Linked DNA regions of Homo sapiens. Changing the gene in region 1 together with any one later gene gives a genetic interaction. Each region holds a gene or a part of one and is shown in the gene's direction. Other genes may lie near its edges. The genes, in order: IARS2 and ATG7.

Region 1 (3,823 bases):
ATTTTGAAAGACATAGCCAATCGATTCCATATGATGAATGGCTCCAAAATACATTTTGTGCCCGGCTGGGATTGTCATGGGTTGCCCATTGAAATAAAAGTATTATCAGAACTTGGTAGAGAAGCTCAGAATCTTTCAGCTATGGAAATTAGAAAGAAAGGTAAATAATCTGTATTTCTGTTTTAAAATGATATTTGTAAACACTCAGGTCCTTGAAATAGTCAGAACTTTACCAAAGGAACCTTTTGTTTGGGTTTCGTTTGCTTATAATAAGATCTATTGGAAACGCCTTTCTGTCACAGAAAATTCAGATTTTATTTCATTGATTTTTGTAAGAACTTATGTTTGGATATTGAAGGAAAGACTTTGTGAGCATTTCTGATTGCATTCTCAGTTTCTTAATGTTCATATTTTAAAAAACTATTTTTTGGTAAATTCTTTTTTCTGCTTTCCTCAAGGGGGCTTGTTGACTGATTTTAGGTGTTAAGCCAAAATTCAATTCTAAAATACATATATTTTACATTAATCTTTTATTTGATCCTTTTTCTTCAGTCGACTGGGCCAAGGGAGGATTCTCTTTTTCTTATATGTTATACTATTGTACATTTGGATGTAACTGTGAAGATTTTTTTACTTCCTTGTGAAACCTATTATCATTGGCTTAGATTTGATATTCTGATTAATTTTTTGTGTATAATGAAATGAAAATTGTTATCTGACCTTTTCTTAAATTAAGAAACAATAAGGAATAATTTTTCCAGTTTATTTGTCCTAAATATGAGGTCATTGTATAAAGTCTGGAAAATACAGAAGACAGTAATAAAATTTTAACTTTTGCAATTCCAGTTAATTTTAGAATTTGTTGTAGGTATCTTCTGAACACTGTTGACCTTCAAATTATTTTTCTATTAAAAAATTTTTATAGGCTGGGCACAGTGGCTCATGCCTGTAATCCTAGCACTTTGGGAGGCTGAGGGAGGTGGATCGATCACCTAAGGTCAGGAGTTTGAGACCAGCCTGGCCAACATGGCAAAACCCCGTATCTACTAAAAATACCAAATAATTAGCCAGGTATGGTGGCTCACGCCTGTAGTCCCAGATACTTGGGAGGCTGAGGCACGAGAATTGCTTGAACCTGTGTGGCAGAGGTTACAGTGAGCTGAGATCCGCCACTGCATGCCAACCTGGGCAACAGAGCAAGACTCCATCTCAAAAAAAAAAAATTTTGTGCTCGGGCGCCGTGGCTCACGCCTGTAATCCCAGCACTTTGGGAGGCTGAGGCGGGTAGATCACGAGGTCAGGAGATCCAGACCATCCTGGCTGACACAGTGAAACCCCGTCTCTACTAAAACTACAAAAAAATTAGCCGGGCGTGGTGGCGGGCGCCTGTAGTCCCAGCTACTCAGGAGGCTGAGGCAGGAGAATGGCGTGAACCCGGGAGGCAGAGGCTTGCAGTGAGCCGAGATCATGCCACTCGCGCCACTGCACTCTAGCCTGGGTGACAGCGAGACTGTGTCTCAAAAAAAATTTGCATTCTAAACTGTCTGTAGCATTTGCATTTAGAGAGATACATGCTAAACCATGTTTAAGAATTCGAATTCATTGGTTTTTTAAAATCTTTTTTTCGTCTTTTTTTTAGCTAGATCATTTGCTAAAGCAGCCATTGAGAAACAGAAATCAGCATTTATTCGTTGGGGAATAATGGCAGATTGGAATAATTGCTACTATACATTTGATGGGAAGTATGAAGCCAAACAGTTGAGAACTTTTTACCAAATGTATGATAAGGTAAAGAAGTATTTTTTCTCTTTGAGTAGGTTTTAGTATGCGTTACAAGATTCTACTTTTAACATCATATTTTTGTCTTTTATAGGGCTTGGTTTATCGATCTTACAAACCTGTGTTTTGGTCTCCGTCATCTAGGTATATATGCATTTTTCGGTAATTAAAAGGGAGAAATTTGTGAGGCTTCCAAGTATTTATGTTTAATATTTTTAACCCTTAGGACTGCATTGGCTGAAGCAGAACTTGAATATAATCCTGAGCATGTCAGTCGTTCAATATATGTAAAATTTCCTCTCTTAAAGCCTTCTCCAAAATTGGCATCTCTTATAGGTAAGATTTATTCATAGCTTGAGTGTACCAAAGTTATAGAATTATCCCATTTGCTAACATATTTACAATTGTATTTTCACAGATGGTTCATCTCCTGTTAGTATTTTGGTCTGGACCACACAACCTTGGACGATTCCAGCCAATGAAGCTGTTTGCTATATGCCTGAATCAAAGTGGGTATATTATTGCATTTTTTGTTTTATACACAAATAGAATGTATTCCATTATTAACATTATTTTGAATTTATTTTATCCTGTTTATTATTGTAAAATTTAATGAATTATAACTTAGTTATTATGTTCATATAGATTTTATTAACCTTTAGGTGATCCTTTTTATGACCTTATCCAGCTTTTCGGGAAAATGAAATAGAAGTATAAGTTACAAAGTGTTTTGAAAATAGTACAGTTTGATCTTGAAGTCAGTTTTTTCTTTTTTCTTTTTTTTTTTGGAGACCGAGTTTTGCCTTTTGTTGCCCAGGCTGGAGTACAGTGGCATGATCTTGGCTCACCACAACCTCCACCTCCCGGGTTCAAGCAATTTTCCTGCCTCAGCCTCCCGAGTAGCTGGGATTATGGGATTACAGGCATGCGCCACCACGCCAGGCTAATTTTGTATTTTTAGTAGAGATGGGGTTTCTCTATGTTGGTGAGGCTGGTTGCAAACTCCCAACCTCAGGTGATCCACCTGCCTTGGCCTCCCAAAGTGCTGGGATTATAGACATGAGCCACCGCGCTGGCCTGAAGTCAGTTTTTTCTAAAATGATTATTTAAAAATTAAAATGATATCTGTGGCTTTTCTTGTTTCATTATTAGTAATTTCTCCTAAAATTTTATGTTAGGTATGCTGTTGTGAAATGTTCTAAGTCTGGAGACCTCTACGTACTGGCGGCAGATAAAGTAGCATCTGTTGCTTCTACTTTGGAAACAACATTTGAGACTATTTCAACACTTTCAGGTGAAGATTTTTAGATATCTGACAACATAGTCATCAAAGTATTGGGCTGACTTGAATTTACTACTTTGCTGAACTGCATATTTTGAATTGAAACAGATATGGCCTCTACCTTTCTAGAATACATTTTACATTGATTACACTAAAGGAGAATATACATTAAGCATGATAGGAGTATAGAAAAATATGAATATTGATAAATGTACAACAGGTAAAACTAATTTCTGGCAATATCCAGTAGTTACTTGGTAAAATTTTATGCAAAATTAATTTTTAAAATTGTTTTTATCTGTTTTAATAAAAGTAGCAAGAAAGGAAATGCATATACTTATTTTTCGATACATAATTTTAATAAAGGATTGAATAAGTTCTGAAAATTATTCAGAAAGCAGTTCTTCTATCAAAGGAATTTTATTTTATTTTATTTTTTAAAGAGACAGGGTCTCATGCTGTTGCCCACTGCTGGAATGCAGTGGTCCAGTCAGCTCATTGCAGCCTCAAACTCCCGGGCTCAAGCAATCCTCCTGCCCTGGCCACCCAAGTAGCTGGGACTATAGGCACATGCCACTGCACCCGGCTAATTTTGAAAAAATATTTTACAGAGATGAATTCTTGTTGTGTAGCCCAGACTGGTCTGGAATTCCTGGGCTCAAGTGATCTGCCTGCCTTGGCCTGCCAAAGTGCTGGGATTAAAGGCGTAAGCCACTGTGCCTAGCCCAAAATAATTCTTTGTGAGCTATAATTTGGGACTTT
Region 2 (3,823 bases), on another chromosome or scaffold:
AGGCATCCCATCACACCTGGCTAATGTTTGTCTTTTAATAGATATGGGGTTTTGCCATGTTGGCCAGGCTGGTCTTCAACACCTGGGCTCAAGCAATCTGTCCACCTCAGCCTCCCAAAGTGCTGGGATTACAGGCATGAGCCACCCTGCCTGGTCTGTAAAGTCATTTTGAAGATGTAGTGCACAGTAATTTTCCAGGTTTTCAGTGGTATTTGGTGAAATGCTAAGCCAGTAAGGGGGAATTATAGGAATATTTTGAAACACTGAAAGAATTTACCAAAATGTGGTCTTCATTTTCAATGTGGGGAAACATAAGGCAGTATAGTCTGGGAAAGAGTCTTTGAAACAAAACAGAAGGCATTCTCCTACCCTTGTACCAAGTTGCAGAACTTTTCTACCTGGAGCAGTACATGCAGAGTTAGTCGGTGACATTTGGGATAGATAATAAGTTCATTAGAGATGGTTCCCAGAAGAGCAGTTAAAATAATCAGGCTGGTATAACAGAGACCCTAAACTAGAGAATTCTTATTGTTGTTAAGGCAAAGATTATGTGTCAAGATGATTTGAATTCTTGAAACACATCAATCACTAAAGCCCTGAATACTGATGCCATCATTCAGGGAGCTCTCTTGGAGCTGTTCAGGGAGCAGCCATTATTGATTAAATTTTTTTTGTTGTTGTTCGTACAAATCCGAGGTTGTGGTTTTGTGGAACTAATTTCCCAAGAGGAAATATAAGTAAGGAAAAAGGATTTTGGCTGAGTATTGACTGCTGGCAGGTATGGGGTTTCTTTTATTGAGGACAAAAATGTTCTGTAATTATTGCTGTGGTGCTTGCATAACCCTGTGAACATACTAAAAAAACAAACAGCACATTGCATTATGTACTTTAAATGGGTGAATTGGGCCAGGCACGGTGGCTCACAACTATAGTGTAATTCCAGCACTTTGGAACGCAGAGGTGAGCATACCACTTGAGCTCAGGAGTTCAAGACCAGCCTGGGCAATATCGTGAAACCCCATCGCTATAAAAAATACCAAAAAAGTTAGCTGAGCCATGGTGGTGTGTGCCTGTGGTCCCAGCTACTCAGGAGGCTGAGGTAGGAGGATTGATTGAGCCCAGGAGGTCGAGGCTGCAGTGAGCTGTGATTGCCTGGGTGACAGAGCAAGACCCTGTCTCAAAAAGTAGTAAATGGGTGAGTTGTATGGTATGTTAGTCATGTCTCAGTAAAGCTGTTGAAGATTATGGAAAGGTTCGGGGTAAAATTCATCAGGGGTAGATTCATGTTGGGTTATCATAGGAGAGAAAGAATGTTTCGTTACCGCTCTAAAACTCTGATTGACAGCTTAGGGAACTACCATGTTGTAGTCCCTTTGTGCCCCTAAGACACACACCACCATGCCCCTGGAAAGTGTTATATAAAAGCTAAGTGGTATTATTTGGAGGCACTTCTATGTTCACTTGCTGTAATAGAGTAAGAGGAGTGTGATCAGTCATTTCTAGTCTTCTGGTTTTAAGGTACCTTTTTTTTGAGTTAGTTTTTAGCCCAGAACTAGAAATGTAATTTTCTAGAGAATAACAACGTGTTTTCTGTTTTCAGATTGAAGCACTAGAGTGTGCATATGATAATCTTTGTCAAACAGAAGGAGTCACAGCTCTTCCTTACTTCTTAATCAAGTATGATGAGAACATGGTGCTGGTTTCCTTGCTTAAACACTACAGTGATTTCTTCCAAGGTCAAAGGACGAAGGTCAGATAAACTTTGAGTATCATTTTATTATATAGTTTTTTAAAAAATCTGAAGTTCATGTTACAAGAGACCACTGCAAAATTCAAACTTGTTTAGATTTCCTTAGCCTTCAAAGGATGTTTAAGAACATTTCCTTATCTCTATCCTCTCCCACCCCTACAGTTATCGAATCAGCTCCTCTAGGTTTTTCTAGCTCTACTACAGCTCAGAATAATTTTGATACCTTACTCTTTTTTTTTGTTTGTTTGTTTGAGATGGAGTCTCGCACTGTTGCCTGGGCTGGAGCGCAGTGGCGCAATCTTGGCTTACTGCAACCTCTGCCTTCCTGGTTCAAGCGATTCTCCTGGTCAGCCTCCCGAGTAGCTGGGACTATAGGTGCCCGCCACCATGCCTGGCTAATTTTTTGTATTTTTAGTAGAGACAGAGACGAGGTTTCACTATGTTGGCCAGGTTGGTCTTGAATGCGTGACCTGCTTCGGCCTCCCAAACTGCTGGGATTATAGGTGTGAGCCACTGTGCCCAGCCAATACCTTACTCTCTATTAGTGCTAAAGTTATTTCCGTTTTCCCTCCTGATGTATTTTACCCTCTATGTTTTAATTTTTATTCCCAGAACTACCCTGTAGTTCAGGCCCCTCATATCACACTCCTGGACACTTAGAATCTTGTTTCCATGTTGTGCAACACTACTGTAGAAGAATCTCCCTTGAACTACCCACATTTAGTGTATCATTCATTGACCAAGAGCATAATGGTGTCTTCCTTCTGGCTCCAAGCTGCCTTTCCTGCCTTATCTTCCATTATTTTCCTCATAAAGCATTGCTCCAGCTAATCTTATCTATTTTTCTCCAGAATCTCCATCCCCTTCCCGTCAGATACATCTAAAACTTTTTTTGTATCTTTGTTTTTCCTCGTGTTGTATCATCTTCCTAAAACATGTTCTACTTGTGAAAACCCTAAGAAATTCTCTCTGTCTTATTGAAATTCTATCTCCACTGTGAAGCATTATCATGGTGTGGCCATATATGATCTATCCCTATCTGAAGTCACTGCATTTATTCCCTGATCCTCATTTGCAGGTCCAGTACCTTGTACAAGTTTCTTTTTGTGCCATATTAGACTGTAAGCTCCAAGAGGGCAGGGCCCAAGTCTTATGAATTTGTGTCTGCATAGTGTCTAGTACTTGTCTGAGGCCCTCAATAAAATTCTTTTGAGTGAATGAAAGAGTACCGTAAATGTCTTTTAGAAGTGATCAGATATATAGGAAGTTGTCTTAGCCATACAGGAGACTATGAATTAAAAATATCAAAGATTATGAGTGTTATGAAGTTCTGAAATCAAATGGAATCATCTCCATAGCCATGTGAATATATCAGAGCTGAAAAAAGGAAAGCCTTTAACTGACGGTCTGGTTATTCTTTAGCCTGAACTTAGGATGACTTTTTTTTTTAAAAGCACATTTTAAAATCAACTACATTTACATTTTATTTTTCAGAGGAAGCCCACCTCCCCTTTTTTGTTGTATTTTTATTAGAGATGGGGTTTCACCGTGTTAGCCAGGATGGTCTTGATCTCCTGGCCTTGTGATCCGCCCACCTCGGCCTCCCAAAGTGCTGAGATTACAGGCGTGAGCCACCACTCCTGGCCCAGAGGAAGCCCTTTTTAAATTGAGGACTGAAGATTGAATTTTTATTAAAATTCTTTCCCCCAGGTGATTTCACAGAACCACAGCTAAATTAGTATAGCAATAAGACCGTTAATAATTTAAAGTCCAATCTAGTGTGAAGTCCTCTTGTCATAGCAGGCAGGATTAAATGGCCTGTGTTTGGAAGCGACCGTAGGTCAGGTTGTATGTGGTAAATAAGTGGTCCTCCCCAAAGTGCAGCTCTGCCAAAATAATAACAGTTTGAACAGTGCTTTACAATTAATTTAAAAGGGACTTTCACATACTTGATCTTTTTATGATAAGTCTGTGAAACAAGCGTTAGTTACTACCTGTGGTTAGTTAATTAGTATCTGCATTTTCTGTTTGAGACTCAAAGTCACACGACCACATTGTCTGATTCCGAAGCCT

The links.
Region 2: of IARS2 (region 1) and ATG7, changing one enhances a phenotype caused by changing the other (phenotypic enhancement), as found in Homo sapiens cells (one large-scale study listed by BioGRID).

The regions. Positions count from the first base shown.
Region 1 is NC_000001.11:220,100,490-220,104,312, forward strand, and holds part of IARS2 (isoleucine--tRNA ligase, mitochondrial precursor), read left to right. Parts: coding exon 1-160; intron 161-1,639; coding exon 1,640-1,788; intron 1,789-1,873; coding exon 1,874-1,923; intron 1,924-2,005; coding exon 2,006-2,115; intron 2,116-2,197; coding exon 2,198-2,288; intron 2,289-2,957; coding exon 2,958-3,073; intron 3,074-3,823.
Region 2 is NC_000003.12:11,313,744-11,317,566, forward strand, and holds part of ATG7 (ubiquitin-like modifier-activating enzyme ATG7), read left to right. Parts: intron 1-1,600; coding exon 1,601-1,750; intron 1,751-3,823. UniProt on the Homo sapiens protein: E1-like activating enzyme involved in the 2 ubiquitin-like systems required for cytoplasm to vacuole transport (Cvt) and autophagy.